Regions from separate parts of the Homo sapiens genome. Here all the other regions are reported to be linked to region 2. The links are microRNA targets in miRTarBase. Many come from high-throughput screens and were not tested one by one. Region 2 holds a microRNA gene; each other region holds the end of a gene's coding sequence. Distances are from middle to middle.
The links. Region 2 holds the annotated microRNA hsa-miR-328-3p (CUGGCCCUCUCUGCCCUUCCGU, at 3,666-3,687, shown strand). A microRNA usually pairs through its seed, bases 2 to 8, with sites in the 3' UTR of a target mRNA and lowers its output. Matches are read on the target gene's strand: a 7mer-m8 pairs with bases 2 to 8, a 7mer-A1 pairs with bases 2 to 7 and ends in A, and an 8mer does both.

Region 1: the mRNA of VWA5A is a reported target of hsa-miR-328-3p. Seed matches in the 3' UTR shown: 7mer-m8 at 6,829-6,835.
Region 3: the mRNA of DNAJA3 is a reported target of hsa-miR-328-3p. Seed matches in the 3' UTR shown: 7mer-m8 at 1,995-2,001.
Region 4: the mRNA of SNAPIN is a reported target of hsa-miR-328-3p. The part of its 3' UTR that is shown has no 7-base or 8-base seed match.

The regions. Positions count from the first base shown.
Region 1 is chr11:124,145,109-124,153,197 of GRCh38, reverse strand. It overlaps VWA5A (von Willebrand factor A domain containing 5A), which reads right to left. Exons shown (of 19, transcript NM_001130142.2): 18 at 7,835-7,961; 19 at 5,477-7,332. The coding sequence ends at 7,253. Among named protein-coding and RNA genes, the nearest start is that of VWA5A, 34 kb to the right of the region's middle.
Region 2 is chr16:67,197,972-67,206,013 of GRCh38, reverse strand. It overlaps MIR328 (microRNA 328), which reads left to right and starts at 3,619; the gene lies at 3,619-3,693. It overlaps E2F4 (E2F transcription factor 4), which reads right to left. Exons shown (of 10, transcript NM_001950.4): 10 at 7,096-8,006. The coding sequence ends at 7,891. ELMO3 (engulfment and cell motility 3) reads right to left here and starts at 6,883. Exons shown (of 20, transcript NM_024712.5): 1 at 6,610-6,883; 2 at 6,421-6,461; 3 at 6,258-6,330; 4 at 6,013-6,063; 5 at 5,653-5,822; 6 at 5,464-5,563; 7 at 5,206-5,357; 8 at 5,046-5,124; 9 at 4,579-4,629; 10 at 4,372-4,494; 11 at 4,141-4,272; 12 at 3,936-4,037; 13 at 3,730-3,838; 14 at 3,481-3,617; 6 more. The coding sequence starts at 6,687. The coding sequence ends at 2,137. RefSeq lists a silencer at 7,488-7,547.
Region 3 is chr16:4,453,598-4,461,419 of GRCh38, forward strand. DNAJA3 (DnaJ heat shock protein family (Hsp40) member A3) reads left to right here. Exons shown (of 12, transcript NM_005147.6): 11 at 1,214-1,330; 12 at 1,949-3,178. The coding sequence ends at 1,317. Among named protein-coding and RNA genes, the nearest start is that of NMRAL1, 17 kb to the right of the region's middle. RefSeq lists an enhancer at 2,121-3,091 and a silencer at 5,938-6,138.
Region 4 is chr1:153,660,716-153,668,680 of GRCh38, forward strand. SNAPIN (SNAP associated protein) reads left to right here. Exons shown (of 4, transcript NM_012437.6): 4 at 485-1,137. The coding sequence ends at 586. It overlaps ILF2 (interleukin enhancer binding factor 2), which reads right to left. Exons shown (of 14, transcript NM_004515.4): 4 at 7,738-7,842; 5 at 7,285-7,362; 6 at 6,840-6,942; 7 at 4,948-5,013; 8 at 4,505-4,621; 9 at 3,681-3,759; 10 at 3,328-3,415; 11 at 2,500-2,561; 12 at 2,304-2,418; 13 at 1,990-2,080; 14 at 1,073-1,841. The coding sequence ends at 1,681. Among named protein-coding and RNA genes, the nearest start is that of SNAPIN, 6.0 kb to the left of the region's middle.

The DNA.
Region 1 (8,089 bases), not on the chromosome of region 2:
CGGTGAATTGTCAATCATGTTTCTTCCTTTATCTGCGATAACCCAGTGGAGAAGAATTAGGCTGTAAGCCCAAAAATGGAAAGGAGTATAATAATGGCTATTTACTGGGTGACACATATCTGAAGCTGCTATTTTCTTTTCTTCCTTTTGTTCTTCTTCCCTTCCTATCATTTTTTTTTTCCTGGTGGAAAAGTTCTTGGCATCCTAAAAATTTGATGGTTTCTATGGATGAGGTGTGACCCACCTAGTGGGGGAATATAGAACTGAAAATATTCTGCATTTTTATTGGGGAGAGATGGAAATGAAAGCAATATCAGGGACTTGAATCCTTGGAAACGCTCTTGAGTGATTTGAAATCCTCAGTCATCACTAATTCCTAAACAAATTTTCATGCTTCTATCTGATCCCACTCCCACTTTCAAAGCCTGTAACCTGTTGGGATATAAGTCAGGTAACCATAACAGGCTAGAACACTGGACCAGTCCTTGGAATCAGATGGAGCAGTTTGATGTCTAAAATGAATCACTAGTTTCCATCTCTCAATGGAAATGTGAGCCTGAAAGTATTTGGTGTCTCAATCAATATTAAGTCCATTTGGAACCAACTATCAGTTCTTGGAGCTTCAGAAACTATTGAACCCAAATTCAGAATCTCTGCCTTCAAACGTCACACGTCCTTTGATCATGCATTCTAATAGATAGTTATAAGAGAATATTTCTATCTATTCCTCAGATAAATCTGATCTGCTTGAACTACAGCTTCATTTTATAATATCTTCTGCATTTAATGTGTGTCTGTTTAGCCATGGACATTAAGAAATCACAACAGCAGAAGTGCTAATTTTTAATCTATCATAATTGATAAAGTTGTTTTGAATATGTGCAACACTATGTATCTTGGACCAGGGTGGTAGTGTCATTCATATATTTATTTACACCTGAACATTATTATAAGATGATTATTGTATAAATATTTGGTACAAAATGGAAAATATATAGCTGTGTATTAATTGTATCTGTAACATTCATTTTAATGGTTTTATCTATTAGTGATTACAGATTCTCCCAAAATCAGATAATTCAGCTAATTTATTAATAAAGTATTATAATCTTTGTTCTTAATATTCAAAACAAGTAGCTATTTCACATTTTTTATTTTTAAAAGCAAAAAATAATAATACTTTCAATCATAGAGTCTCTGTATGCAGTTGAAGTTGTTACTAACTTAAAATAGATGGTTATAAATACAAGCTATTTTTATGAAAGCCTTAAGATAACCACAAAGAAAAGTCTCAAAACATAAAGAGAAAATAATCAAAGCAAATTGCTACCAAAAAAAAATCAAATACAGGAAGAAAGCAAGAGAAGAACAAGCCAACTACAAAACAAACAGAAATCAATTAAAATGGCAGTGATAAGTCCTCACTTATCAATAGTTATTTTAAATGTAAATGAAATAAATTCTCCAATCAAAAGACAGAGTGATCATTTTTATTTGTCTATTGTACCTCAGTAAAGCAGAAAACATGCTTGTAAGCTTAAGCGTCTTTACCCTAAAAATCCACTGAATGTTAAACTGTTAATTACAGTACCTCAAAAAAGAATTAAAGTGAGTGAATGGATTTCACAGTACATAAACTACACTTCACTAAGCTGTTTTTTTTTTAAAGTGAAATAAAGACTAAAAAAGGCATGGATTCTAAAGTCTATATAGAGCTTGATCGCTGACAAAGTATATATATATACTTTTAAATATATATATATTTAAAAGTAAGCCTGACTATATTTCTATACAATTCCACTTTCAGCTTTATGACTATGCTTATTATTATTTAAGAAGAATTGCCTAACATTATACCCTCATCCCTACCTGAGACTCTGTCTATTTATTGACCCTCACTGCATTACTGAATTCTTCCCCACACCTCACCTCATTTTCATATCTCACCATTAAGGATGTCTGTTTGTTACATCACTTAGTAATAAAAACTGGTTTATGTGCAAAACAAACAAACCCAAACTTTTAACTTTGGATAGACCACAATAGAAAAAAGAATGTTTTCTACCTCTGAAATTCCAAAAAGTACAGTTCTGTAAATGAAGGGTCAGTGAAGTGTGGAGATTTGGTAGATCAGACTACATGGAGGCCAGTTTCAACTATAACATGCAAAGAGTTTGGAAACCATCACTCTCACCATTACCACAAGAAAAAGCTGAACAAACATGATATGGTTTGGATTTGTGTCCCCACCCAAATCTCAGGTCGAATTGTAATCCCAGTGTGGGAGGTAGGCCTGGTGGGAGGTGATTGGATGATGGGGGTGGATTTCCCCATTTGGTGCTGTTCTTGCGACAGAGTTCTCACGAGTCCTGGTTGTTTAAAAGTGGGTAGCACCTCCTTCCTCTTTCTCGTCTTCCTGCTTTGGCCACATGAAGACACCAGCTGCTTTGCCTTCCATCATGATTCTAAGTTTCCCGAGGCCTCCCCAAAAGCTGCTATGCTTCTGGTATAGCCTGCCAAACTGTGAACCAATTAAACCTTTTATTTATAAATTACCCAGTCTCAGGTTTTCTTTTTATAGCAATGCAAGAATGGAATAATACAAAACTCATTTATCTGTACCCTTTAGAAACTGAGAACACAGGTAAATAGTCATTCTGAAATCCTGAGAGACAGGTGACTTCAGAGTCACTGCTGACATTTACAAACCTGGAAGAGAATCTTTGGGATGGAATATAGACAAATAGAAACTTCCTAAACTTAAATGTAAAGATAAAAACAAAAACCAAATAAAAAACAAACACACATTCACATGGCTATATAAAGAATCTCTGGAATGGAAGATAGACCAATAGAAACTTCCTAAACTTAAATGTAAAGATATAAACAAAAACAAAATAAAAAACAAACACATAGGAAAAACAGAGCAGAACATTCAAAACTTACAGGATAATTTCAAACAGTGTAACATGCAATTGAAATACAAGAAAAAACTAAGCAGAAAAATAGTTGAAGTTATAGCAAAAATTTTCCAAAATTAATGAAAAGCACAAAATTACAGATTCAGAATGTTCAAATAACACCAAAAGGATAAATACAAAAGGCCCTACATTTACAAATATAATATTCAAACTGCAGAAAACCAAAGACAAAGAGAAAATCCCAAAAGTCTGCGGGGCAGGAGGGGGAGAACACTTTACCTATAGAGGAAAAAGAATAACAGCATATTTCTTGCCAAAAACTATTCATGCTAAAAGAGATTGAAGTAAAATATTTAAAGTGTTAAAAGACAAGACGACTGGACGCAGTGGCTCATGCCTGTAATCCTAGCACTTTGGGAGGCCAAGGTAGGTGGATCACAAGGTCAGGAGATCGAGATCATTCTGGCTAACACAGTGAAACCCCGTCTCTACTAAAAATAAAAAAAATTAGCCAGGTGTGGTGGCATGTGCCTGTAGTCCCAGCTACTCGGGAGGCTGAGGCAGGAGAATCACTTGAACCCAGGAGGTGGAAGTTGCAGTGAGCCGAGATCACGCCATTGCACTCCAGCCTGGGTGACAGAGCGAGAATCTGTCTCAAAAAAAAATAGACACACACACACACACATACACACACACACACGGAGCTATAAGTTCAGCACAATTATGCTTCAAAAGTGAAGAAGAAATAAGGACTTTCCCAGACAAAAAGAAAAACTAAGGGAATCCATTGCCCACAGATCTGTTCTACAAGAAGTTTTAAGACAAATTCTTCCGGAAGAAGAAAAAGGATACAGGTAAGAAACTCAGATCTATGCAAAGAAAGGAAATGTCAGGAAGAAATAAATAAAAGTGAAATATGTATTTTCATTTTCTTATTAATCGATCTGAAAGATAACTGTTTAAAGTTATGATAGTAACAATTAGGTAGTTAAAATATAGACATAAGTGACATGAATGGCAGCAATGTCATAGTGGATGGGAAGGAATTAGGAATACTCTGTTATAAGGTAACTGCACTACATGTAAAGTGATATAGTGTAACTTGAAGGTGGGCTTAAATTAGTGATAAATGCATATTGCAAACCCCAGAGCTAAAACTAAAAAAATTCTTAAGAAATATGATGGATATATTGAGTGGAGATAAAATGAAATCACACAAAATGCCTGGTTAAAGTGAGAAAAGGCAAAAATGAAAAAATAAAAGAAAAAAATGCAATAAATAGTAAACAGTTGACAAACATGGTAGATATTAACCTAATTTTATCAATAATTACTCTAAATATAGATGATATGGGTCGATAATTTAAAAGTAGTGATTGCCAGAGTGGATTAAAAGCAAACAAAAACAAATAAATAAGACCCAACCACATGTTGTTTCCAAAAATCCACTTTAAATAAAAAGACTCATATAGGCTAAAAGTGAAGGGATGGAGAAAGATACACCCTGCCAAAACCAATCAGCAGAAAGCTGCAGTAGTTACGTAAATTTCAGACAAAGCCAACTTCAGAACAACAACAACAAAAATCAGGAATAAAGTTGAGCATTAAATAATGATAAAAGAGTCAATTTTCCAAGGATGTATGATAATTTTAAATGTATATGCACTTAGGAGAATATCAAAATATATGAGGTAAAAACTGATAAAATACACAGTTCACTGCATGGGTTTTTTTTTTTGGTTTTCTCCTGGTCAATCAGATACTCCAGAAAGCAGATGGACTGTTTTTAAGGAAGGAATTGCTGTGAGTTGGGAGAGGAAGAGCAGATGCTCAGTGACCCTGAGTGGGACTGTGTTAGAGTTGGGGAAGACGGAGGATGGATTTCATTAGTAAGTCTGTGTAGAACAGAGAACCCTCCAGGGGAGCTCCTGGCCTGTTTGAGTGGAAGAATCTTGAGGGAATGGTATCTGCCACTTTTCCTGTGGCCAAGTCTGCTGCTGTGGGGGAAACAAGCACTAGATAAAGGCAACTAATGGGAGATGAGAACAGCTTCTCTCCTGGGCTCCTTGCCTGGACCACCAGTTTCTGAAATTACAGATGGTTCTTTATACTTTCCCAAAACATAAAGCATCAGACTTGAAATGGGGTTTCAACAAATGTGCCAAAATGCCATTTGCTGATTATGAAGACTGACACTTGTTTAGATTCGAGGAATTTACAGTTGGCACAACATTTCACTGTGCAGGAGCCCAAATGGAAAAATAAAACCACGCCACTTTAAAACTGTAGTTGTCTTATTTTAAAGAGGTCAAAAGACAGGTTGATAATTTTTTTTTTGTTTCTTTTAGTTCGTTTAGTTTTTGTTTTAGAACGCCCCGCACTAAGTCCACAAGCCCCAGTCTGGAAGTTGAAGGGTGAGAAAAAAGGAGGTAAACGATAAGCGCTCCGCATAATAAATGTAAAGTCACAGCATTGTGTGCACAGAGGTTAACTATACAAGTTTCACGGTCCTTAAGAAACTATTTTCTGAAATTACATAGGTAGGGCCTATCTAGATGGCAGGCTTGGATATAAGCCTATTTCATGAAAATATTAAGCCTTTACTTTTCAAACTTCAATGTGCATGCATGATACCTGGGAGCCTTGTTAAATAAAGTAGTTCCTGGTATCGATTAAAATTCTGCATTTCTAAAAAGCTGCATTTCTAACAACCCTGTTCCGCAGATCACATTCAGCATAAACAAACTTGGAAGAAAGACTGAGAGATTAGAGTCCACTATGCAAGTCACACAAGTCTTCCTAATACCAGGTAACTCAACAACTTAAAGAAACTCAGGCCTAGTCCACCCACTTTCTGAGTGAAAAGTCACCGATGTTCCTCTAGGAATTCTGAGTGGAACTCGAAAGTGTTAATAAAGTTCTAGTTTAATCCCTTAGTTTTACAGATGAGGATATTAAGTGCCTGAGGGTGAAATCATTTGCCCATCATCACATAACTATTTAAGGGTATGGTCAGGATTCTACAGTGGTATTCTTATTAGTATCCTTTACTTGCTTCATATAAAAGAAGTCAGCCTACAACAGAAGATAGAGGGTCAGGATACCATGGGAACAGTGGAGGCATCAGAAAAGCTGGAACAGAAAACAAGGGACAATAAAACCAATGTAAGTTCAATAAATGAATCTATGGAGGAGTAGACCTCTTGCTAAGCTTTTTTTCCCTACTAAGTTTTATTTCACTAACTTCAGGTCAAATTTCCACAACTGTGTTCCGGTCAATTTACTATCCTAGTTTGGCTTCCCAAAGTGGCAGTACCAAAATATTGTGGGGTAGGGAGACGAGACCACTTTAAGAACCACTGCATTTACTCATCAAAGGGTAGAAATAGTCATTTTAATATTGATACAAGTTATTTTAAGGGACAGCATATCAAATAGGGTCATTTCCACCAGGATAGGGTATATGAGACACAAGGGTCAGGAACGATTACGGGGAGCTCCTTTCTTCCTAATGCGGTAAGTGCTCCAGGTTCAGGTCCCAGGCAAAGCTCCCATTAAGCCCACCCTTCCCTTTACTGCACTAGATCAGGGCCTGACTTAGAGGACACATAGGTTCAGGGTAGGACTAAGGATTGCATTATAGACTTCTTAAGGTGTTTCATGATTAAAGAGGAACATCTCTCTCCAACAGTTATAGTTCAACCCAAGTCTTTCAGGCAGTGGAAGAAAAGACATGTAGGTTGTACAGGCTAGCAAAGCCCAAGAAGAATGAATCAGGAAGGTCCCCAACAGTGTCACCTCTCACAGTGGACCCCTGCAGTCTCTGTCTTTGTGATCTTGACATTACATTGATCCAGATGTTGGCTTTCAACTTCCCTCTAACTCCTCCTACGCAAGCTTACCAGTATGGCCCTGATAAGTATATAAGATAGAAAGTGAACAGACAAAGATAATGCAGAAAATTCTCTAATTCAAGCATTCTCTAACATAAATGCTGCAATCTTTAGTCTGTAGTTCATGTCACCTGTTTTTCATGTTGTTTCCCTGGAAACCCTGGGAGGAACATTACTGCCTATGAATGTTTTGAACTCCCTCAAGAAAGGGAATAGGTTCTGGGACCACTGTCACTTTTCTGAGGGCATATGTTGGGAAAAGAAAGATCATATCCAAAGTGAACCTGGAGCAGAGAAGCGAAGTGGAGTAAGCATCCTTTACTTTTATGGCAAAAAATAAAGAGTTATAATACACAAGAACACATCATCACAGCAAAAGTGATACTAGAGGAAATGACAGTAGCAAATTAAAGGCACTTCTTTTTCTGGATGGTATCTTCAAAAGGCAAAGATAGCAGGATCCACAGATGACTTCAGGAAAGTAATAGCAGCTTTCACAACCGAAGGCATGGTGGAGCCTGTGGTGAGGAAAAACAAGAAGCAGGGATGAAGGATTGCAATTAGAGGCTCCTCCAAACCTCCCAGATCATCTACCCTGAGTTGTGCTTTTATCTGTCCTCAATATCCCTGCTTTTTCTTTTCTTGCTACCCAGATTCTCCTTGAATCTTCTCTGGCCCCAGATACACTCAGCTGCAGTGAGATAACAAACAGCCAGGAGAACACGCACCAAGTCTAGTCTTCTACTCAGCTTGGTACTGAGACAGTAAGGAGAATCAATGCCACTTGTCCTTCTCACAGTTCACACTCCCCATTTGTGTCCCTCTCCCTCCCTACTCACCCACCTACCTTGTCCCCAATTTAATATTTCACCCTTGTCCTCCCAAGAAAAGAACTAGCAGAAAGATTAGTAAAGATCTGAAGCAGGATGGTGGAGGCAGGTGACAATGGGACTCTCTTGTGGTCACCTTCCGCCAGGCCAGGGAAGGGGAAGGAGACAGGCCTTAGGATTGTGCTCCTACCTGCATGGGCACGCATCCAGGCCACGGCCTTCCTTTCCAGAAGCTCCCATTCACACTTCAAGTCCTTACCATTGCTGTGCAGCCAGATCACGGCCAGGATGGTGGCCCAGCCTGAGGAATCCACAAGCTGCACAGTAGATAGAGAGCTCCAGTTGGCACAGGAAGTCCCTCAAAAGGATGCAAAAAGCTTCACTCCCTCCTCACTTAGCATCCTTCTAAATGTCACTAGATGGAGTTACCTGGTCTCTCTTTACC
Region 2 (8,042 bases):
GTCCCTGCCCCCCATTTCCACCTATAACTCAATGGCCGACTGCTCCATTTGTGGTGGGAAGTCCTTAGGCATGGGCATAGTGGGCCCTGGATGCCCAAAGATCTGCAGCTTAGCTGGGGGAGGGGGAGTAAGTGCCCTCCAGCACTGAGGGCTGAGCACTGAGGGATGAAACTGAGTTTCATCAGTTCTCAAGGTCAGCCAGGTTGATGGTTAACAGTTAAAAACAGTATTGGGGCCAGGCACGGTGGCTCACGCCTGTAATCGCAGCATTTTGGGAGGCCGAGGTGGGCAGATCACCTGAGGTTGGGAGTTCGAGACCAGCCTGACTAACATGGAGAAACCCCTTCTCTACAAAAAATACAAAATTAGCCGGGCGTGGTGGCGCATGCCTGTAATCCCAGCTACTCAGGAGGCTAAGGCAGGAGAATCACTTGAACCCGGGAGGCAGAGGGTATGGTGAGCCAAGATGGTGCCATTGCACTCCAGCCTGAGCAACAAGAGCAAAACTTCATCTCAAAAAAACAAACAAAAAACAAAACAAACAAAAAAGTATTGGAGACAGGTGCGGTGGCTCATGCCTGTAATCCCAGCACTTTGGGAGGCCGAGGTGGGTGGATCACTTGAGGTCAGGAGTTAGAGACCAGCCTGACTAACATGGTGAAACCCTGTCTCTACTAAATACAAAAAATTTAGCCAGGCATGGTGGCGCATGCCTGTAATCCCAGCTACTTGGGAGGCTAAGGCAGGAGAATTGCTTGAACCTGGGAGGCAGAGGTTGCAGTGAGCCAAGATCACACCATTGCACTCCAGCCTGGGCAATAAGAGTGAAACTCCATCTCAAAAAAAAAAAAGAAGAAAAAGAAAAAGAAAAAAAAGATATTGGAGGTAGCACTGGTGAGAGAAGAGGTGAATGGCAGGGGGAAGTCTGAGGGGCAGTGGCTTCAGCCTATCCTGTGAGCTCCACAGACTTATAGGCTCTTCTTTCCTCACGGGCTTGGGGTCTGTGATCACAGCCTCTGCCCCTGTGACCAAACCTCCAGCTGGGCCCAATACTCCTCGATGCTTCTGCCCCCAGGGGCTCTGGCCTGTCTATGGCCCCCACCCTACCCATGGTTCTGAGTTAGATTTTTAATTTGTTTTTTGAGATGGAGTCTCATTCTGTCGCTCAGGCTGGAGTGCAGTGGTGCAATCTCAGCTCGGTGCAACCTCCGCCTCCCGGGTTCAAGCGATTCTCCTGCCTCAGCCTCCCGAATAGCTGGGATTACAGGTGTGCTCGACCACACCCAGCTAATTGTTATATTTTTAGTAGAGACGGGGTTTCACCATATTGCCCAGGCTGGTCTTGAACTCCTGACCTCAGGTGATCGGACTGCCTCAGCCTCCCACAGTGCTGGGATTACAGGCGTGAGCCAAGCCCGGCCCTGAGTTAGGTTTTAATCAGAAACCGGGTCTTCCTGCACAGAAGTGGCTCTTGTTGGAATCAGCCCACATCCTCCTACCAGCCTGGGGATCCTGACCCTGCCCTTCTGCCTCTCTCCCTTCATGCCTCTCACCAGAGAACTCCAAGTCCTACAAAGGACACCAGGCAGGGCCATGCAAGCTTGAGGACTGAGGTCAGATTGTCAGGAGCCTTCTGGAGATGGCTCCCAGACTACGCCCCTGTTAACGCTGTCCAGGAAGGCATCCATTTGGGGCAGTGCCTCCTACCCTGCCAGTTCTCCTGCAGCAGGCCGGCAGCTCAGCCTCTCCCTTGGCAGGTGCCCCCAGACCACAGGCCAACCCTCCCTGCAGGCCCAGCATGGAGGGAGGCTGAGGACTCACCTTGGAGAAAGGCTGCAGTCCCAGCCTCTCCCCACCCCCTTCAGAACACCAGCCCCTCAACCGTAGCTGTCAAAGTTTGTGGCCTGGCCTGATGCCCCATCTTATCCACCAGCTAAGTTTGAAGGCAGAAGGGGAAGACTGTCACTGTCACAGGCTCAGCCCGCAAGGTACAGAGCTGGCTCAACATATCCCAAGAGCCAAGCAGACTTTATTTCTGCAGCAATCTCTGCTGGTCAGGGTGCCTGCACTCCTCTACCCACTGCCCTTCATGGCTGCTGCAGTGGCCGCAGCTGTGGCCCATGGCCAGCCACACTGTCAAGGTTCAGCGATGCTGCAGTCATAGCAGAAGTTGAAGTTGGTGGGGGGTGGGGGCACAGGGGGTGGCCGCTCGGGGATGGGCACGTTCTCCAGCTCCAGCAGACGCAGCTTGGTCTCCATGGTCAGCAGCTGCTCCAGGTCCAGCCGTGTCTGCTCGCTGCCCATGGGACTGCCCAGCAAGGCACTGAGCCCATCTGTCCACAGGTAGAACTGGGGGTGGCACAGAGCCGTGAGGGTCTGCCCATCTGCCTCCCCTGCCCACCTGCCGACCTCAGCCTGGCGGACACTCACCTCCCGCTTGGAGGGGGCAATGAAGTTGAGGTACGCTTCCTCCTCCCCACGGTCATAGCTGATTGAGAAGGCCAACTCATAGAGGTCCTGGGGAAGCAAGGGAGCGGGGACACTGAGCAGGGGACAGGGTAGGCGGGGGCGGGTGGGAAGGAGCCCCTGGCCCGCTGTACTCACCTTGTTCTGCTTCCCGGAGCCCTTCTCCCGGACATGGGGGCAGTCCTTGCCTGTCAGGAGTGCCCTCATGTCGGCCACAGGGACTGCAGGAAGAAGGCTGGGCTGAGCACTGCAGCCCTGGCAGCCCCGGGGCCCAGGGCGGTCTGGGGAGAGCAGGTATCTGGCCCCCGCCCCTGCCCGCCTTACGTTGCTCGGGCAGACTCTCCAGGGTAGGCGGGCTGGCGCCCTCCTCCATGTCTCCGTACTGCAGCAGCTTGTGGTTGGGGGACAGGCAGCAGAACCACAGCTTATCTGCGTGGAGAAAGGGAAGAGGGCCAGAGTGCTGAGAGGTCCTGACACCAAGCCAGCCGCCCTCTGCCTGCCCTCTGCCTGCCCTCTGCCCCCTGCCCATGCCCATTCAGAGACCCTGGCGCCGCCGGCTGCTGATCTTGCGGAAGAGCGTCCCCTCACAGAGGCGGAGCAAGCGCTGCTGGCGGATCAGGCCCATGAGCTCTGGCTTCAGCTTCTCCCGCAGCTCCCTGATAGAGGGGTGTCACTGAGCACATCTGACCTGGGGAGTAGCCCAGGGGGCACCAAGGAAGGTAGGGCTAGGACTGAGGATCCATCCCCCCAGACTCACAGTATAGGGGGAGCCAGTGTGCCCTCCTGGTGCAGCCGTTCAGTCTGCCGCAGCCGCAGCACCTCCCCATAAGTGAGCGCATTCACCTTGGTTCGGAAGAGCTCCAGGGAAGTGGGCTTCAGGGCCAGAGTGCGGGCCAGCTGCTCCCGCACCACCTGCATGACCTGGGGCCGCCCAAGCTCAGCTCAGGGCCTAAGCTCTGTACCCAGATCAGCCCCCTGCCCTGGCCCAGGCCTCCCAGCTCCCACCCCACCCACCTTGTCGAAGTCCTCCTGTGTAGCCCGCATCTCCTTCCAGGTCTTATTCAACAGCTGGATGCCCACACAGAAGAGCTCGTGGAAGCTCTGGTCTTGGCCGAAGAACATGGGTGAGAAGTCCTGGGCTGTCTCAGAGCCTGGAGTGGGGGGGCAGGAGGGGCTCAGGGAGAAAGTGCATACAGCCCCTGGCCCTCTCTGCCCTTCCGTCCCCTGCTCTTGGCCATGCTGTGCCCAGTCCAGGCCACTCACAGGGCTCCCCAACACGGAGCAGCTCACACAGCAGCACCGTCAGCTGGATGCTGCCCCGGGCAAAGGGGCACTCGTGCTTGTCCTCGCGGCTGCTGTTCTCCAACACAAACTGGGGGCGCAGAGAATGGGGCAAGGAGTCACAGCTAAGCCCATGGGGACCCTGCCTGGGGGATGCTGCCACCCCCCCACCCTACCCTGTCACCGACCCGGCTGTACGCGCTGGGCGCGTTTCTGGAGAAGTACAACATGTTGTCCAGGGCCAGCAGACCGGGGGGCACGCGCTCCAGGTCCTGTGCTGGGTTGCTGTTCTGGGGGAAGTGGGCACAGGCAGTTCAAGAAGGGCCACGGCCGCCTGGAACAACAGCCCTGGGCTGAGGCAGGGGTGGGGAGTTGGGTAGGGGTGATACTCACAGAAAAGCCCAGTTTGCGGAACTCTCGGGCACAGAGGGAACGGCGACGGTCAGCACTTAGCCCGGCACCCGAGGACTCCCCCTCCACCTCGAAGGCAGCCTGGCGTAGGACCTGCAGCTGCTCCCGCTGCTCCTGGGGTCAGTGTTGGGTGGCGGGGGAGGGGATCAAGATTATAGATTCAAGGCCAAGCTCTAAGCCACCCCCTGCCTTGTCCTCACCAAAGACACACACCTGGCTGTAGGGGTCCAGGGGCGTCCGCATGCGCGGCTCCAGCAGCCCCAGCATGAGAGCCTGCAGTACGTACAGGTGATGAGCCATCTCGTCGCCCATTGGTGCTGCACTGTGGATGATGTTCTGCAGGACAGCCAGTCCCTGGTGTAAGCGAGGGCTCACGGGGAGGGAGGGGCAGAGAGGTCCCCCTGGCCCACCACTTCCTACCTTATAGATGAACTGGCGAAGGTTCCTCTGCCAAAGATAGTCAAGCATGTGCTGAGGGGGTAGAAAGAAAGGGGGCTTAGGCTGGGCGCGGTGGCTCACGCCTGTAATCCCAGCACTTTGGGAGGCCAAGGCGGGCGGATCACGAGGTCAGGAGATGGAGGCCAACCTGGCTAACACAGTGAAACCCCGTCTCTACTTAAAAAAAAAAAAAAAAAAAAAAAAATCAGCTGGGCGTGGTGGCGGGAGCCTGTAGTCCCAGCTACTCGGGAGGCTGAGGCAGGAGAATGGTGTGAACCCGGGAGGCAGAGCTTGCAGTGAGCCAAGATCGCACCACTGCACTCCAGCCTGGGCGACAGAGCAAGACTCCATCTCAAAAAAAAAAAAAAGGGGGGCTTAGAGGATTTTGCTTCAGGGTGGGGCAGCGCCCACCGGGTGCTGCCCCCATCTAGCCACCGATCGACACTCACCTTGCGTTCCACAGGGCTGGCCCCCTGCAGCAAGGCTGTCAGCAGGGCCATGGCCTTGGTTTGCAGCTGCTGGTTCATCCTATGGCAAGAAGAGGGCTCAGTGGAACATTCAGGCTCCAGCCCTGCTCCCTGCATCTGGACCCCAGCCCCAGAGGCTTACACCTGTAGGTGCACCAGCAGCCTATCCAGGGGCACCTCGCTCTTGACCAGCTGGCCCAGGGCTGGGCTGCTCAAGGTCACACTCTCCAGCAGCCCAAGGGCCAGGGGAGGCACGGAGGCATCCATGAGGTTCATGTTCACGTAGCACACCACCTGTAAGGGGCGGGGGTGTCACCACCTCACCCCCATGGAAGACCGGGTCTACCACTGCCCCACTGCTCCACTGCCCCCACCCGCTGCCCTAGGAAAGCCCACCCACCTTCCTCACAAAGGGGATGCTCAGAGTCTCCCAGGACACCACGCCGTGCTCCATGAGCTCTGAGAAGGCCCTCAGGCTGAGGGCCAGCACCTCTCCTAGGCTGGAGGGGGGACATCTGGGGCTGAGCAGGACCACCCCAGGACCAGAAAGACCCACCATCTCCCCCAGCCCACACATCCCTGTGCTCACTCGTCCCCATCTTCAATGATGGTGCCTAGTATCTGGAGCCCATTACGGCTGATGACCTCCCTGGCAAAGATCATGTCCGAGGCCAGCGGAACAAGGCGCCTCAGGGCTTCCCGGCGCCCTTCAGGACTGTTACTCTGCAGCCCACCCAAGAGCTGCTCAGCCTCAAGGTCCTGGCAGGAACGGAGCAGGAGCAGAGGTGAAGAGGCTGGGCATGGTAAGGGTGGGACCTGGAAGTGTGCGGCCCCGGGCGTCAACTAGGTGGCGCAAGGCAGGGCTGGGGCGGGGGCCTCCGGGGCGGGGGGCCTCTGGACCTGGAGCAAAGGGGCAGGGATGGGGAAGGCGGGACGGGAGGGGCATTACTGGGGCCGTGCTGAGGCACAGGATGCTGCCATTCTTGATCTCCGCGCGGTTCTGGAGAAGACAGCAGAAAAGGCAGCGAGGTCAGGGAGGGCTCCGAGGACTGATCAACTGGGGTGTCGGTGAGGGCGGCTGGGGGTGAATAACAGATCGCGCTCCGGTAGTGGGATGAAGAGCCAGAGTTATCGGGGCCAGGTGGGTTAGAGGGGTCGGAAGGCCGAGCTTGGGGCTGGGGAGAGGGGACTCACATTCTCGGTGATGTATCTCCGGTGCCCATCCGCAAACTGCAGGGCGTAACGCTCAGAGTGCGTCAGGCTCCACCTGAGGGGCACGAGGCTCAGCGAGGCCGGCAGGGGGCGCCGCCCCTCCTGCCCTCCCGCCCTCCGCAGGCCCTGGCCCGGCAGCACTCACGCGTCGCACACCTCCTTCAGCACAGCGGCCAGGGGCTTCGCCTGCAAGTGGAGTGGTCATTCTCGCGGCCTGGGCAGGGAGGGATGGGGAGGAGCCTGGGGGGAGGGGTGGGGCGGGCTGCCCCGAGGGCCAGGGGGCTACCGGGAGGTGGGGCAGTGGGGCAGATGGAGGCGGGACCAGCCGGGTGACCTGGTCCAGCTGGATGAGCTGCGGGATGGCGTCACGCATCTTGATGGCAATCTTCACCACGTTCCGCGGAGGCGCCATGGTCCAGCTGGGACGTGGGCGCCTGCACTTTCCGGAGACCGTGCACCTGCGGCCAAGGGTGCACCTGGCCTGGGGCCCCTGGGGACGAGGAGGTCCTCCCTTTCCGAGACCTGACCTCGGTGTCCCGCACTCGCGGCCCAGACTGCTGCTCCTGGCCATGCAACGCGGCCTTCCCAAGGGAGCCGAGGTTAGTTCCGGGTTGGAGTCTGGGGGTAGGAAGGTAGGACGGCTCCGCCTGCCCCGCCCCGCCGAGGCGGCCCCGCCCCACACCAAGGTGCGGCAGGTGGGGGCGGGGAGGGCAGGCTGCCGGAGGCCGCCCCACCCCTAGTTCCAGCAAGGTGACCCACCCAATCACACTGCCAGTCCAGCACAGTCCCAAGGAGGGTCCCCAAAGAACCACATCAGAGCTAGCCTTAGGCATGGTTTTTATTCACTTGAACACTGTACAAATATTACAATTTCCTTTTGCTGCAAAAAGTATAAAAATAATCTTTATATAGGAATCCATTCGTTACTGTAAATCTTTCTAAATCTCTGCAAATGGCTCTAAATGAGGGTAAATGAAAAAGCCGAAATGAAGAGAGGGTTATGGGGCAGCAGGAGGTGGGGCCAATCATCAGGGCTGGACCACCCAGACTCCTCCCCAGAGACCTCTGTTCCTTCTTGGTAGCCGCCCCCACCACCTGCAGGTTCTAGGGCTAAAGGCCCAGCAGAAGTGGGCACGTGAGAGGGCCAGGAGGAGCTGGAGGGTCAGGGGGTGGGGGATAGCGAAGGAAGCTAGAAGTGGTGCTGGCATGTGCCCAGTTCCACCCCACCCTTCCCTCCTAGGGGAAGGAGCTGGCAGAAGCAAGACACTGAGGCTGGCAGGAACAAGACACTGCCCCCTATGGGGGGTAATGGCAGCTCCTCGGTTCTGTGCCACTGGGTGGCAGCCGAGCCTGGGCTGGCGAAGGCCGCAGAAAGGGAGAAGCAAACACTTTGGCTCCACGGTGATGGGGGCTGAGTCCTGTTCCCCTGCTCTGCGAGCACAGAAGTGCCAGCACAGGAGCGGGAGCTGTGGCCAGAACTGTGCGGTGAGGGGAGGCCGGAGAAGCCAGGCGTCTGTGGCTCTCAAGCTCTGTAGGGGTCGGGTGGGAGAGGTCCCCAGGCAACCCCCAGGTCAGACAGTCTGGGTCCCAGCCACACAGGGCATGTCCCTGTCAGTCAGAGGTTGAGAACAGGCACATCAAAGAGGTCACAGACACCTTCACTCTCGTCCAGGTTGTAGATATAATCGTGGTCTCCCGGGGGTGGAGAAAGACGAAGCAGAGGGGCAAACACTGCAGAGAGCACTAGTCTCAGGCCCTGGGCCAGGG
Region 3 (7,822 bases), 63 Mb from region 2:
CTAATTTTTTGTATTTTAGTAGAGATGGGTTTCACCATGTTCGAGGCCGGTCTCGAACTCCTGAGCTCAGGCAATCCGCCTGCCTTGGCCTCCCAAAGTGCGGGGATTACAGGCGTGAGCCACTGTGCCCGGCCTTTTCTTTTTTGAGACTGGGTCTCACTCTGTTTTATGTAGCCTCCCTCACCCCTTCCCGGGGACCTGTGGCCCCAAACTTTGGACCTTTCACTAGCGAAGGCACCTTCTTACTTAGACTGAGGCCTTTACTCTTTTATGCACTGTGCGTGGCCTAGGTCTCTGAGCACATTAAAAATGAGCTCTACAATTAACATGCCAAGTTCAGGTCTATATTCTAACTCACAACAAAAGTGTGCACTCCTTGTCTAGTAGTTGGCAAATCTGTAACACGTTTGTGTGAGAAAGTACCTCTAGATGGTGTCAGCCTGGGCCCTAAAGAAATTGCAGCACAGCTTCCCTAGGTTGAGAGCATTTAGGTTAGGTGCCCCAAATGGGGACAACTTGCTCAGGGAGATAGACTGCTGATGTGAGGGATGAGATGGAGTGCCTGTGACAAAGGATTGTGCGTGGCCGTGACTCCCACATGGGCTGTTCTGCAGGGTCTTTGCGCACACAGCAGCATGGAATCTGGCCAGTTGGTCTAGAGTAGGGTTTTTCTTGGCAGTCATTATTTACCTTCTTATAGCCAACAGCATGGTGGTTGAGTCTCAGCTTTGGAGTCAGACTGCATGGGCTCGCACTCAGTCCTCCCTCCCGCTTGTTGGCTCTGTGGCCTTGGGTAAACCCTGTAACCTCTCTGTGCCTCCTTTTTTTGTTTTTTCATCTGTGAAATTTGCCTGTAAGGAAGTGTATGGCCTGGCCTGGGAGGTGCCTGGCACTTGACTGTGTTTTTGTCACTGTTGCTCAGATAGAGACAGCTGTCATAGTCCGTCTCTATTTCTTGTTTCCCTGCTGTGGGTCCTTGATTGAAAGAGCAGTTGGGAGACCCTCAGGCTCTGAGTGGCCTGTTCACCTCAGTCGTCTGCAAGGTGAGGCATCCTGTGCCATCTTAGGAGTGGCCCCCACTCTTCTTGAGGTGGCACTTGGCCGCTTCTTGAACGTGGGCCCCTGGGTGGCCAGGCGGGGGTAGGTGGGCCCTGGGATGTGACTGTGGAAGTGCAGGCCCATGACGCCAGTTCTTTCTGCTGTTTGTGCCCAGGTGGCAGCACCATGGATAGCTCCGCAGGAAGCAAGGCTAGGCGTGAGGCTGGGGAGGACGAGGAGGGATTCCTTTCCAAACTTAAGAAAATGTTTACCTCATGATATCCCAGCCGAGGTAGGAAAACCCTGGAGGTTTTTTTTCCCTTTGTTTTCCTCTGTGAACTAATCCTGGTTTTCTCCCACTTTAACCAATATTGTGCCCCCACCCCCAGGAGTTGGAACAGGTGCCAGTCCAAGGTGTGGTAAACCTAGCTCCACTAGGAGCTGGCCTCTCAGCCTAGGGAATAGATGACGTGGCAATCAGCCTGTAGTGCAGGACTGGCTGGGCTGCCGCGGCCAGCCTCTGGCTGTGTCTTCTTCCTGGGGAGGTGGCGATGCTGGGGCTGTTGTACAGCCCCCCTGCAGTGGTGGGTCCGGCTTGCCCATGGTCACAGAGGGCGAGTCAGGCAGAGCCAGGCCTAGAACTCAGATCTCCTCACGTCCTGCCTGCTTGGAAGCTGCCCTCCTGCGTGGACAGCGCAGGGCTGTGCAAGCCTGGGGGCTGCTCCAGGGGTAGCGCTTGCTCGCCGTGTCATCTTGGGACCCACTTTGGTTTATTATGCTCATCTCAGCAAGTGGGGTTCTCGCCCCTCTCTTGGCACAGCTGCTTTCCAGGGATTAACAGACGCTCCCCACAGGGGTGTGTTCCCTTGAAATGTTGAGTATAAGGTAACAGCCTATCTCTTTGGCTCAGGAAAAAGATCCACTGGAAACTAGGCCGGGAAGCAGCAGCCCCTCCAAGGGCCAGGGCACCTGGGAGACGGGAGGATTCCAGAACAGCAGCACTGAGCTCCCACCCGCAGAGCCTCTGGACGGCCTTGGCAACAGCAAAATCATGGGACAACACCTCTCTCCACGGAAAGGTCACAGTGGACAGCCCGGGCAGTAGGATGCAGCCCCAGAGGCTGGTGGCAGTTTCCTGTCCATTGGTAGGTGACGGCCCCTGGCTCAGGCAGAGGGAGATGGTTAGACTCTTGCAGGGCTAAAACTCTAATTTGGAATTGAATATTGTGGATATCTTAGTTAAAGGCCATGCTTACAGCTTAGAAATGAAGCCTTAAGCTGCATCAAGTTACGAAGTGATTAATTTCCTTCTCAGCAAACCTCCGGGAGGTTCCAGAATGAGTTCTTCCTGACAGGTTGTCTTCACTGGGAGCGTGGGGCCCCCAGGCCCCACCAGCACCGTCCTCCCCTAATGAGGGGCCCTGCCGAGGCATCAGCTGCTCTGCTCAGTTAGTTTTTATTCCCGGGGTACCAAGCAGCTGCACAGTCGGTGCCTGGGAGGCACGTAGAGGCCCAGAGAGTCCCTGGGGGTTCTGCTCTGACCGTGTGGGTGGTGATCCTTGTCAGGATGTACAGTCCTTGCTCCCACCCCATCCGGGATGGCCGCCTGTCCCTGACTATTGAGTCCTGTTGTTGTAAGCCAGGCATGGAGGGCTCCTGCCCTTCTGCTGAGCCACAGCCCATTGCAGCACTGTGCTGGCCAGACTTCAGCTGCCTTGGGAACTGAAGCCCTGCCACTGTTGCTAGTCAGGGGCTTGGTTCTCCCACTTACACTGTTGACATCTATTTTCTGAAGTGTGTTTAAATTATTCAGTGCTAATCATTGTTTTTTCCTTTGTAAATGTTGATTCAGAAAAGGAAAGCACAGGCTAAGCAGTTGAAGGTTCCCCACCATTCAGTGAGAGCAGAACCCCCATTCCCCAGCCTCTGCTGGTAGCATGTCGCAGTTTCCATGTGTTTCAGGATCTTCGGGCTGTCGTTAGACAGGTTAATGAAGAACACTTCTCAACAGTTTCCTTTTTGTTTTCCTTTATAATTCACTAAAATAAAGCATCTATTAGTGTCTGATTTAGGAATGTAAAATGATTCTGTATTAATGTAAATAAGATTATCTATTGCAAAAAGATATTTCAAACCTAAATTGTGGTCATTTCTTCTTTGAAAGAATTCAGACAGCCTCTGCAGGTGGCTTATGGGGGTTACAGGAGACTTGGCTGGCCTCATCCTGTGCTCACAGCCACCCAGAGCACATAGAGGCAGATGGGTCTGGGGTGCCGACAGTGCTGACCCTCACTTGGATTCCAGAGCAGGGTGCTTGCCATGACACAACAGTCCCCTGTGAGTGAATGTTCTAGAATCTGGATGTGACTTTTTTCTTGGGAGCCCATGCTGTGAGAGCTGGCCAATGTCCCTGGGTCCCTGCATTTCAGTCTCCCTCACTGGATTGTTTCCCTTCATTCTTTCCAGTCTTTGCATCTTTTACATTCAATTTTATTTTATTTTTTTTTTAAATGGAGTCTCGCTGTGTCGCCCATACTGGAGTGAAGTGATACCATCTCTGCTCACTGCAACCTCTGCCTCCTGGGTTCAAGCGATTCTCCTGTCTCAGGCTTCTGAGTAGCTGGGACTACAGGTGCATGCCACCACGCTTGGCTAATTTTTGTATTTTTAGTAGAGATGGGGGGTTTCACCATGTTGGCCAGGCTGGTCTTGAACTTCTGACCTCAGGTGATCCGCCCACCTCGGCCTCCCAAAGTGCTGGGATTACAGGTGTGAGCCACCATGCCTGACCAAAATTTTTATGTATTATAGTTTGGCTACTCTGGGTTCCCAGCCACGCTCTATGCCTGGCGTGGCTAGAGGGGCCCTGATACACAGCTCAGTCCACTCTGGCACTCTGGGCTGAGCAGGGTGAGATGAGAGTCTGTTTGCTGGGTCAGGTGGAGAAGAGACTCGGGAAAGAGCTGACGGACAGGAGAGGCTCAGCAGTGACATTCTGCTCATCTCAGATACTTCCCAGTATTTTCATCAATGAAATACTGATTGCCTGCCTACTGTGGACACTCAGTATGGACCAGGCCCTATTCTAGTTCCTGGGGATACAGCAGTGGGGAGCTAGACCGTGTCTCTTGTGAAAGCTTGGGCTTATTCCTGGAACAGTCACCCTGAGTCTCATTCATGTCCTATTGCTTCAAAGCAGAAGTCTAGAGAAAGACTTTGGAAGAGAAAGGTGGATTTTCTTGCTAAACAGAAACCATTGTTGTGTTGAAGCATCCTTCCCTCAAGGGATTAGAGGTGGCTGTGCATGACCAGGCGAGGTGGCTCACACCTATAATCCCAGCACTTTGGGAGGCTGAGGCGGGTGGATCACCTGAGGTTAGGAGTTCAAGACCAGCCTGGCCAACATGGTGAAACCCCGTCTCTATAAAAATACAAAAAAATTAGCCAGGCGTGGTGGCACATGCATGTTATCCAAGCTTCTCAGGAGGCTGAGACAGGAGAATCACTTGAACTCAGGAGGTGGAGGTTGCAGTGATTGGAGATCATGCCATTGCACTCCGGCCTGGGCGACAGTGCGAGACTTCATCTCAAAAAAAAAAAGGTGGCCGTGCAACAGCTGTAGAATTCAGTGCTCTTTCTGGGCCTGGGTTTGGTTTATTTCCACTTGTGCTCCTGATGTATTTGTTACCAGACTTCTTTATAGCTTCTGAGTAGTAGTATGTATTTAAAAATATAAGAAAAGGGCCAGGCATGGTGGCTCACGCCTGTAATCTGAACACTTTAGGAGGCCAAGGAGGGAGGAATGTGTGAGCCCAGGAGCGAGAGAGTGAGACCCCCATCTCTACAAAAAAATTCTAAAAAATTAGCTGGGAGTGGTGGCTTGGCACCTGTAGTCCCAGCTACTTAGAAATCTTGAGGTGGCAGGATTGCTTGAGCTGAGGAGTTCAAGGCTCCAGTGAGCTGTGATCATGCAACTCCACTCCAGTCTAGGTGACAGAGCCAGACCATGTCTCAAGAAAATAAAGTATTTCTAGGCCTGTGAGCCTGTGGGAGGTACATGTTTGGCACTTGCTTAAACATTAGGAGGGTGGGCCGGGCGTGGTGGCTCACACCTGTAATCCCAGCACTTTGGGAGGCCAAGGTGGGCGGATCATGAGGTCACGAGTTCAAGACCAGCCTAGCCAACATGGTGAAACCCTGTCTCTACTAAAAATACAAAAATTAGCCAGACTTGGTGGTGGGCGCCTGTAATCCGAGCTACTCGGCAGGCTGAGGCAGGAGATCCGCTTGAACCCTGGAGGTGGAGGTTGCAGTGAGCCAGGATTGCGCCACTGGATTCCAGCCTGGGTGACAGGGTGAGACTCCATCTCAAAAAAAACATTAGGAGGGTGGACAAGGCCAGCTCTCAGGCATTGGTCCTCAGCCCCATTCCCACCTCAGGCCTGGGACTGGGTTGTTTCCAACCTGAGCCCCCTCCTCACTCATAGTCCTTTGGGTTCTGGTGGCCTGGCCTTTGTTTCCTTCCCTGTCAACCAAACAGTGTGCAAGAATTCTCTCCAGGCCCACAGGCCTCCAGCTGCCCCTGCCCCTCTGTGTTTGTAGCACTGCAGAGCCGGCTCTGATGTGGAGGACGGCAGCTGCACGGCTCCTGGAAGAGGCTTGTTTCACACTCTTGCTTGTTAATAAATACTGTGCAGGTCTTATCTTTTAACTAGAAGTTCTGCTTATTTCTCATGACTCTTCAAGGGTCACAAATGGGCCAGGGGGGAACATAAAAGGCGAAGTGGGTCCATAGTTATATGGCCAAGGGCATGATCCACAGACCTTAGCTTACTGGTCACCTCCCCCGATGCTGCTCCTGTCCCCATTTATTTATCCTTCCTGTTTTGTTTTTTGCAGCCCTTATGTCAATTTGTTTTTTGGGTTTTGTTTTGTTTTTGAGACAGGCTTTCACTCTGTTGCCCTGGCTGGCTTGTGGTGGTGCAATCACAGCTCACCACAGCCTTGACCTCCTGGGCTCAAGTGATCCTCCTACCACAGCTTCCTGAGTAGCTGGGAGTACAGGCACATGCCACCACGCCTGCCACCATTTCTTCTGTTTTTTTGTTTTTGAGGCAGAGTCTCCCTCTGTCGCCCAGGCTGGAGTGCAGTGGTACAATCTCGGCTCACCACAACCTCCACCTCCTGGGTTCAGCTGATTCTCCTGCCTCAGCCTCCTGAGTAGCTGCCGGCACACGCCACCACGCCCAGCTAATTTTTGTATTTTTTGGTAGAGACAGGGTTTTGCCATGTTGACCAAGTTGGTTTCGAACTCCCAACCTCAACTGATCCACCTGCCTTGGCCTCCCAAAGTGCTGGGATTACAGGCATGAGCCACCACGCCTGGCCCTAGTTTCTTTTGTATTTCTTTTTTTTAGGTAGAGATGGGGTCTTGCTATGTTGCCCAGGCTGGTCTCGAACTCCTGAACTCAAGCCATCCTCCACCTCAGCGTCCCAAAGTGCCGGAATTACAGGCGTAGATACATAACTATTTATTGTGTGTTTCTATCAGGCTCTCCCACTAAATATAAGCTCCTCAAGGCAGGCAGCATAACTTTTTTTGCTACATTGTATTTAGGGCCCAGCATACTGGTAAATTGTCAAAGAAATGCTTCAGTCAATGGATAGAATGAATTTTTGTGCCTGGGGGTGCCAGAGCCAGGGTGGGGAAGTAAAAAAATAAAAACTGTGATGGTAGTCACACAAACCTAAATGTGTTGAATTGAAATTCACAGAACTGCTGGGCTCAGTGGCTCATACCTGTACGATAATCCCAGCTACTCAGGAGGTTGAGGTGGAAGGATCACTTAAGCCTGGGAGGTGAAGGCTGCAGTGAGCTATGACTGTGCCACTGCACTCCAGCCTGGGCAACAGAGCGAGACCTTGACTCTTTAAAAAAAAAAAAAAAAAAAAAAAAAATTGGCCAGGCGCGGTGGCTTATGCCTGTAATCCCAACACTTTGGAAGGCCGAGGCGGGCGGATCACGAGGTCAAGAGATCGAGACCATCCTGGACAATATGGTGAAACCCCGTCTCTACTAAAAATACAAAAATTAGCTGGACGTGATGGTGCATGCTTGTAATCCCAGCTACTCGGGAGGCTGAGGCAGGAGAATCACTTGAACCCAGGAGGTGGAGGCTGCAGTGAGCTGGGATCGTGCCACTGCACCCCAGCCTGGGTGACAGAGGGAGACTCCGTCTCAAAAAAAAAAAAAAAAAAAAAAATCGGAGCTGCCATGGACCACAAACTCTCAGGCAAATAACTGGTCTCTCGGCCTCTGACCCTCTTCTCTGTGACCCACCCCAGCAAGCAAGGTGGGTTGTTTCTCCTTCAGTTTTGCTTCCCAGCAGTGTCCAATTACTGTGCGTTGTGGACCACAGCTCTGCCACATCCGATTTTCCTTTTTCCAACCTGTTTGAAGTTCACCTGTGTCCAGGATGGTACCCCAAGGCCGGCTCCTTCCAGGACAAGGATGAGGAGAGAAAGGGAGAAGCCCATATCTCCCCCGCCTCCCTGCAGAGCCTGTCTCCAGTTCACATGTGCAGATGGCCTCACTAGCTCTGGAGATGAAAGGGGTGTGTCAGAAGCTCGGCTCCTGGGGCTCCTCTGTGTCCTGTGCTATGTCCCCGTCTGTGAATGAATTTCAAATGTGGGAACAGAGGCTGCTGGTCAGAGCTGTTCTGCTAGCTGAGGTCAGAACAGGCCACTTCACACCTGTCTGACTAAACACGTTTAGGTCACTCGT
Region 4 (7,965 bases), not on the chromosome of region 2:
CTCAAGTGATCTTCCTGCCACTTCCTCCTAAATGGTGCTGGGATAGGCATGAGCACCATGCCTGGCCTACATTTTTTTTTTTTTTTGAGATGGAGTTCTCCCTCTGTCACCCAGGCTAGAGTGCAGTGGCACGATCTCATTTCATTGCAACCTCCACCTCCCGGTTTCAAGCGATTCTCCTGCCTCAGATTACAAGCACCCGCCACCATGCCCAGCTAATTTTTTTGTATTTTTTAGTAGAGACGGGTTTTACCATGTTGGTCAGGCTGGTCTTGAACTCCTGACCTCAGGTAATCCACCCGCCTCAGCCTCCCAAAGTGCTGGGATTACAAGTGTGAGCCACCATGCCCGGCCTACATTCTTATATATACTTTTGAAGACTGACTTTGAGGTAGATCACGCCCGGTATTTTTCAGCACCTAGTTCACTTACACTCTCAAGCCTTTCACAGTGGTTAAGATTCCAAACCTTCCTTGTCTTGTAGGAACGACTGAGACGGCTAAACCACAGTGTTGCCAAGGAAACAGCCCGCAGGAGAGCAATGCTGGATTCGGGAATTTACCCCCCTGGCTCCCCAGGCAAATAACAGATGAGCCTATGGACTCAGTAGCACAAGTACTGTTCCCCAGCTGCCTTGTTTCAACAGACATGCAAAGATCCTAGGAGACAGTCCCCATAGACCTTCAGACATTAAAAAGGGAGCCGTACAGTTTGTTTGAAGCACTTCGTCTTACCCATTTATGTAGGGGCCCCAGGAAACCTACACACAGCCAGAATGAGGTTCCCAAAGGACTTACATTAATTATGGCTCTTGCTTCCTTTCACAAATGAGCTGAGGCCTCTACTTTTTTTTTTAAGCTGCATACGTGAGGCTTACCTTCTTCAGGACTAGTTAACCAGAGGGGCTTCCTTTGTATGTTACATGCCTGGTTACATGGGCCTGGACAGCATGTCCTCTACCTGTGACTTCTCATTTTCCTGTTTACACTGGGGATTTGGAGGGGGCAGGCAAAGTCAAAGTGAATGACCTCTGTCCACCCACTTTTTTATTGCACTGGCTTGAATACAGTAGCAGTGTTGATAGAATCATTTTATTCAATAAATACTTAAAATGATATTCTAGTTTACTCTGGTATATGGAAAGGTTCCAGGAGTTTGTCCTTTAATTCAAAGACAGCTTCAAATTGTGATCTGAGTATTTATAATTAAATGACTCAATTATCATTTTCAACAAAAGAGTACACAAAGCCAAAAGCAAAAAAGGTTGCCACATGCAAAAAAACAAACAAACAAAAAACACCAACCAGAAAGACCAAGAGCCCTACTAGGAAGTACTTTAATAGTTTTTCTTAGAAAAAAAAATTTCCAGACACTTAACATTTCACAACATTTCAACAGCAAAGTATTAGTTGAGAGAGGGGTTTTCAGGAGTTGGAGATTATAGAATATTAGGAAGAAATGTTGGTATCCTCCATTATAGATGGATGGCATAGGTCACAAATGGGAGACTGGCAGCTAAGCCAATATCAAAACCCAGTGGAATGACACTTCTATGGAGTTTACTTTTCTTCCTGCTATCTTCCCTATCCCACGGAAATGTCTGTCACCATGTAAAGCCCAGTAGCAGGCAGCTTAGGCTCCAGTCTTCCCCCTTGGGTAGGAAAAGGAGTGAAGGGAATGTCACTCCTGAGTTTCCATGCTTTCTTCTTCCTCTCCTTGAGGTGGTTCTTCTGTATTCTCCTCTTCTTCCTCTCCTTCCTTCTTCTCTGGTGGCTTCTCATAAGCCTTTTCTGAAGGTGTTACTATCACTCCATCCCAGGTAGATATTTCAGAAGCAAGATCTAGGAAAGAGAAAAAGGTGATTTAGACGAGTAGCCCAGCATAAAAGTCATTACTTACACTGTGGAAATATTAAAGACATTTAAGTAGTGTACAGCTTCTCTGTACCAGATTACAATACAAAACCCCTGACCCACAGTGGTCACTCACAGCTGGCATCACCCTCCTGGCCAAGGATCTTCCTAAAGCCACCATGTGAGAGGATTCGGACGAGAGTCTGAGCTGTATAGCAGACCATGTCCTGAAGGAAAGCAAAGTGAGAGTAAGCAAGGAAAATCAAAGGACCTTATTTGAGTAATACCCTTCTGAAAACAGAGATTAAGACAGCTTTTTAAATCTCAGGACCAAAGTCTTTCAGAATCCCCAAATTCCTGACCCGTAAAGACCATATTCCGCTTTGCCTGCTGAGCAGCAGTATTCAAAAGAGTGGGGCAAAACAACTCAGTTCATATCTGTCCCAATACCTGCTGTTCTAGGGTCATGACTGTGTGTACTCTAAAGTTGCCACTCTCACAGGGGTCAGTGATACCCACTGAACCTGGCAGGAACAGTCCTGCAGCCAGAATCTGCAAGCAGCGCCTAGAACACAGGGAGGTATGAGGTATTAAAGGAATGCACAAAATAGTTTACAACCAACCCTAAACCCAAAGCATGCTGTACCTGTATGCAACGTTTAGGGCCAAAGGCTGTCTGGTGGGGTTGTTCATCACAGCATAATGGCCCTGAAAAATAATAAATCCAGTAGGTGTGCCATCAAAATGGCACTTCTGATAACTAGAACTTTATTTTTTAGAGACAGGGCCTCACTTTGTCATCCAGGCTGGAGTGCAGTGGCGCAATCATAGTTCACTGTAACCGCGAACTCCTGGGCTCAAGCAACCCTCCTGACTCAGCCTCCTGAGAAGCTAGGACTATAAGTTCAAGCCACTACAACTGGCTAATTTTTTTTTTTTTCTCTTGTAGAGACAGAGTCTCGCTATTTTGCCCAGGCTGGTCTCAAACTCCTGGCTTCAAGTGATCCTCTGGCCTCAGCCTCCCAAAGTGCTGGGATTACAGGCATCAAACTAAAACCTTAAATGATCACGAGGAAAACTGGTCATTAAGGTCTAAGTCTAGCCAAAATTTTCATGTTCAGAAGCAATTCTGAAATGGCTGCTCACTCATTTCTCTCTACTACCATGATTAAATGGTAGCAGTCATGAGAAGAAAACGGGACACTATAACTCAGTAACTACTCATTTCATTGAATATACAAAAAAAAAAAAAAACTTTGAATTTTTTCTTTTTTTTTAAACAAATGTCTCTGAGTCATGTAAATGTTGAATTTTTATTGGATTACTTGTCTACCAATAAAATTTCTTTTAAGCTTCACCAAATTTCAGACTCTGGTGAATTTCAGAGTTACTACTACTACTACTACTACTACTACTACTACTACTACTAGTAAATAAGGATGATGAGGAACTCCAATTGCCCATCTTTACTTACTAGTAGGTCAAGGATCCAGGGTGTGAGGGGCTCAAAGCCAGGAAAACGAATCCTCAAGTCCTTCAGTAGTCTGATGAGAACTTTAACTCTGAAAGTAATAGTGACCCAAACATTAAAATCAATACGATCATGTATTTCCATGCCTAAGGTAGAATTGAAGCTGACTATGCTATTTCCAGAACTATACATTCTCTGCTTTCTCTAAATCTTAATTTGCTTCCTTAAGGTAAAAATAAAAATCCAGACACGAGGTCACAGGCAAAATAGTTCTGTCAGAGGAAGTATGGGGGTATCCTGCTATTCACTGCAGTTAAAAAGTTTATCTTAATCCAAATGGTTAGAGAGGGACTCACGTGGACTGAGAAGCATTTTCCTCGAACCAGCGGGCATGTCGGATGGCTGCTAAGGCACTCTGCAATACTTTGATATCCACTAAAAAGACAAGCATGATATGCCAGGATGAAACATTTTCATTAAACAAGCTACTCATTACCACTGCTACAGTCTTAAAAACTTGGAAGGAGGGCAGGATAGACGGAGTCTCGCTCTGTTGTCCAGGCTGGATTGCGTACAGTGGCGTGATCTCAGCTCACTGCAACCTCCGCCTCCCGGGTTCGAGCAATTCTCCTGCCTCAGCCTCCTGAGTAGCTGGGATTACAGGTAACCGCCATCATGCCCCACTAATTTTTTATTTTAGTAGAGACGGGGTTTCATCATGTTGGCCAGGATGGTCTCCAACTCCTGACCTCAGGTGATCTGCCTGCCTCAGCCTCCCAAAGTGCTGGGATTACAGGCGTGAGCCACCGCACCCGACCAACTCTGCAATTCTTTAAGCCACCCTGTGTTTCTCATATCAGCAAATCACTTGTCTAAAAATCACTAGAAACATGCAAGATCTGTTTTCTTCAAAAGCCTATCCCCCTCCATAAATATTTTCTCAGTCCTTTTTAAGTCCTCCAAATGCTTTCTTGGTCACCCCATCTGAAAATTCCACTAGCAAGCTGATAAACTATTTCCAAATTACAGAGGGAGAGAGCAAAGTTCAGAATAAACCTAAGTTCTTCAATTCCCAGGAAGCTGCATGTGGAATAGCAACAAGCTAAGTAAACTAAACAGCAACAATACCATGTTTTGAATATCCCCTAAATTTTCCAGCAATGGAAAAAAAAGAACTAACAATGGAGTTCTGGATCCAGTTTTCGAAGATTGGGTGGCACTGTTGTAATGAGAATCTTCACTGTAGCATCAGAAGAACTGATTTCAAAGCCAGTTTCGTTGGTCAGCATGGTTAAAACTGAAAAAACAGAATAAACAAAAACTATAACTCACATTTCCATTAGATGATCAAAGTTAAATCCAGGGTGGGGGGGAACAGGTGGATTTTTTAAAACAGCACAAAGTCCAGAATGAGAATTTAGAATACAGAGCTTTAGAAGGGAGATCAAACAGATCTCCCTTGAACACCTTGAACACCTGAAGCCCCTGCCAAAAACTCCCACAACATAAAACTCTGCATTTACTCTTCCATCTGGTCTGATCTGATTTTGTTGAAAGTGTACTTACAATTACAAGACCTGGTTCCTATGGCTACTAAATACAGAATCAGCAACAAATGCAAACCTTCAGAAGGATCCTGTGCTCTTAGGCTTTCCACGACTTTGTTCCCCAGGGCAGCAACAGCTTCCACTAATTGACAGAAAATGACATAATGTTATAATAATTTATTTGCCTAGACTTTCTATGTATCTCTAAGCTACTTTGCACTCTCATTTCTGTCCCATATCCAAGGCTGAAGCAAGGGTAAGTAATAGAATATATACTTTTATAAGAGAAAGCCAAGGCCTGGGCAGAAAAATTGGAAGACTCAGGGAACAGGACCCCTCCTGTACTCATATCCTCTTTCTACAGCAGGGTTTTTCAGGTCAGTGGCAGTTAATAACATTTTGGGCTAGACAAATCTTTGGGGTGATGGGGATGTAGGATGTTTAACAGCATCCACGGCCTCTATCCTTTTTCTTTTTTTGAGAAAGGGTCTCACTCTTGTCACCCAGGCTGCAGTGCAGTGGCACAATCACAGCTCACTGCAGCCTCAGCCTCCCGGGCTCAAGCAATCCTCTCACCTCAGGCTGCTGCTTTTTTTTTCTTTTTTTCTTATTTTTGAGACAGGGCCTCACTCTGTCACCCAAGCTGAAGTGCACTGGCACGATCTCTGCTAACTCCAACCTCTGCCTCCCAGGTTCAAGCAACTCTCCTGCCTCAGCCTCCCAAGTAGTGGGGATTACAGACGCCCACCACCACGCCTGGCTAATTTTTATATTTTTGGTAGAGACTGGGTTTTGCCACGTTGGCCAGGCTGGTCTTGAACTCCAGGCCTTGGCCTCCCTAAGTGTTGGGATTACAGGCGTGAGCCACTGCACCCGGCCCCACCTCAGGCTTCTGAGTAGCTGGGACCAAAGCATGCACCACCATGCCCAGCTAATTTTTTTCTTTTTGTAGGTACAGGATCTCTCTATGTTATACAGGCTGGTCAAACTCCTGGGGTCAAGTGATCCTCTTGCCTCAGCCTCCCAAAGTGCTGGGAATACAGCCACCACACCTGGCTTCTACCCTTTTTTGATGCCAGTAGCACCCCCTTGTTTTAACAATCAAAAGTACCGCCAGATACTGCCAGATATCCCCTGGGTGGCAAAATTACCTCCAGTTGAGAAACATGGCCGTACAGTAACCTGCTATACATTCTTTCAGACACACACACTCCAGCGTTTGTCCCTTATCACTCATTAAAAAACATTTGTCAGGCAGGGTGCAGTGGCTCACGCCTGTAATCCCAACACTTTGGGAGGCCAAGGCGGGCGGATCACCTGAGGTCAGGAGTTTGAGACCAGACTAGCTAACATGGTGAAACCCCGTCTCTACTAAAAATAGAAAAATTAGCCTGGCATGGTGGCACTTGCCTGTAATCCCAGCTACTTGGGAGGCCAAGGCAGGAAAACAGCTAGAACCCAGGAGGTGGAGGTTGCAGTGAACCGAGATCACGCCATTACACTCCAGCCAGGGCAACAGAGTGAGATCCGTCTCAAAAACAAAAACTAGAAACATTTGTCTTACAAACATCCTTTCTCACAAGAAATTTGAGCTTTCAAGATCCGTAAGGGCTGGGCACAGTGGCTCACGCCTGTAATCCCAGCACTTTGGGAGGCTGAGGTGGGCAGATTGCTTGAGCTCAGGAGTTTGAGACCAGCCCGAGCAACACGGTGAAACCCTGTATCTACAAAAAATACAAAAATTAGCTGGGTGTGGTAGCACACATCTGTAGTCCCAGCTACTCGGGAGGCTAAGGCGGGAAGATCACTTGCTGTAGTGGAGGTCAAGGCTGCAGTGAGCTACAATGGTACCACTGCACTCCAGCCTGGCCAACGGAGGGAGAATTTGTCTCAAAACAAAAAAAGATACCTAAACCCCTAATCCAAGTGCTATGTTCTGTTCCCATGACCAGAAACAGGCACACTCACACGTTGGCAGAATCTTGAGTATCACCACCAGGTCAGCCACATTGTGTCCTGTAGTCATTGTCCCCTTTTTATAGGATCCCACCTGTCGAACTTCTTCAATTTGCTGTTGGAAAAAGGATTTCGGGGAAAAACAATTTAGAAGAAAAAAAGGTGCCTAGGTCCTCCCAGAACTGTTACAACACAGCTACCTGTTACCCAAATTAAGAAGTAGCAGAGGTGAAATCACCCCCAAAACCACCACATGAAAGCCTGATACATCACAGCTAGCATAACAATGATACAAGTCTTGTCCCCAAGATCAGTACTACAAAGAAATTCCACTGTACTTTCTCATTTTAGGCTTGGCTTTGGATAATAGACAACTGAAAATTAAAAGTCAAGAGCCAAGGCAATTTCCACACTACCAAAGCTGCCCTTTCCTAAAACTAAATCATCAAAAACTCACCACTTCAAATGTCCCTGGAGCCACAATCAGATTATCAATCACATTGTTTATTTTTGTCACCAGAGAAAGGATAGATGCCTGAAAAACAGTATGAAACAATACTTGAAAATGAAAAATTATAAGCAATTTCTCAGAATTTGAATATTTTCTCCTAATCCCTTCCATACAAGCTGACTCAATACTGACATAGGGCTTTAAAAACACTTCATTCTGGCCTTGAATATATGGGAAGAGAACAACTCTTTGTCCCCAGTAAAAATAAGAATGCATATGTAATTTGTTTATATATCCACCTGGCTATCTCCACCCACAATGAGAAATAAGGAGAACAATTAAACCCTTTGTGGATTTCAGGCTCTGTTAACACCATTCTTAACCTTACCAACAGTTACTCTTTACCAATACTTTTAACTGCTTTAGAGACATTTCTGGAAGACAGCCAAAAGAACATACCTGTTCAGCAGAATTGGGAGCCAGGTCCTGATTCCTCTTCAGCAAGGCCTCACTGAAGGAAGTTTCATCAGGTGCTGGCTTGACCCGGGGAAAGGCCATTTCACACTAAACCAGAAGTAAACAACTACATTCTATTTGCCGAAGATAATATACAGGAGAGATTGTTTTTTCTATTACTACGACAGAAAAAGGTTAAAAACAGAAAATTCTACACTTGTTTTTACTGCT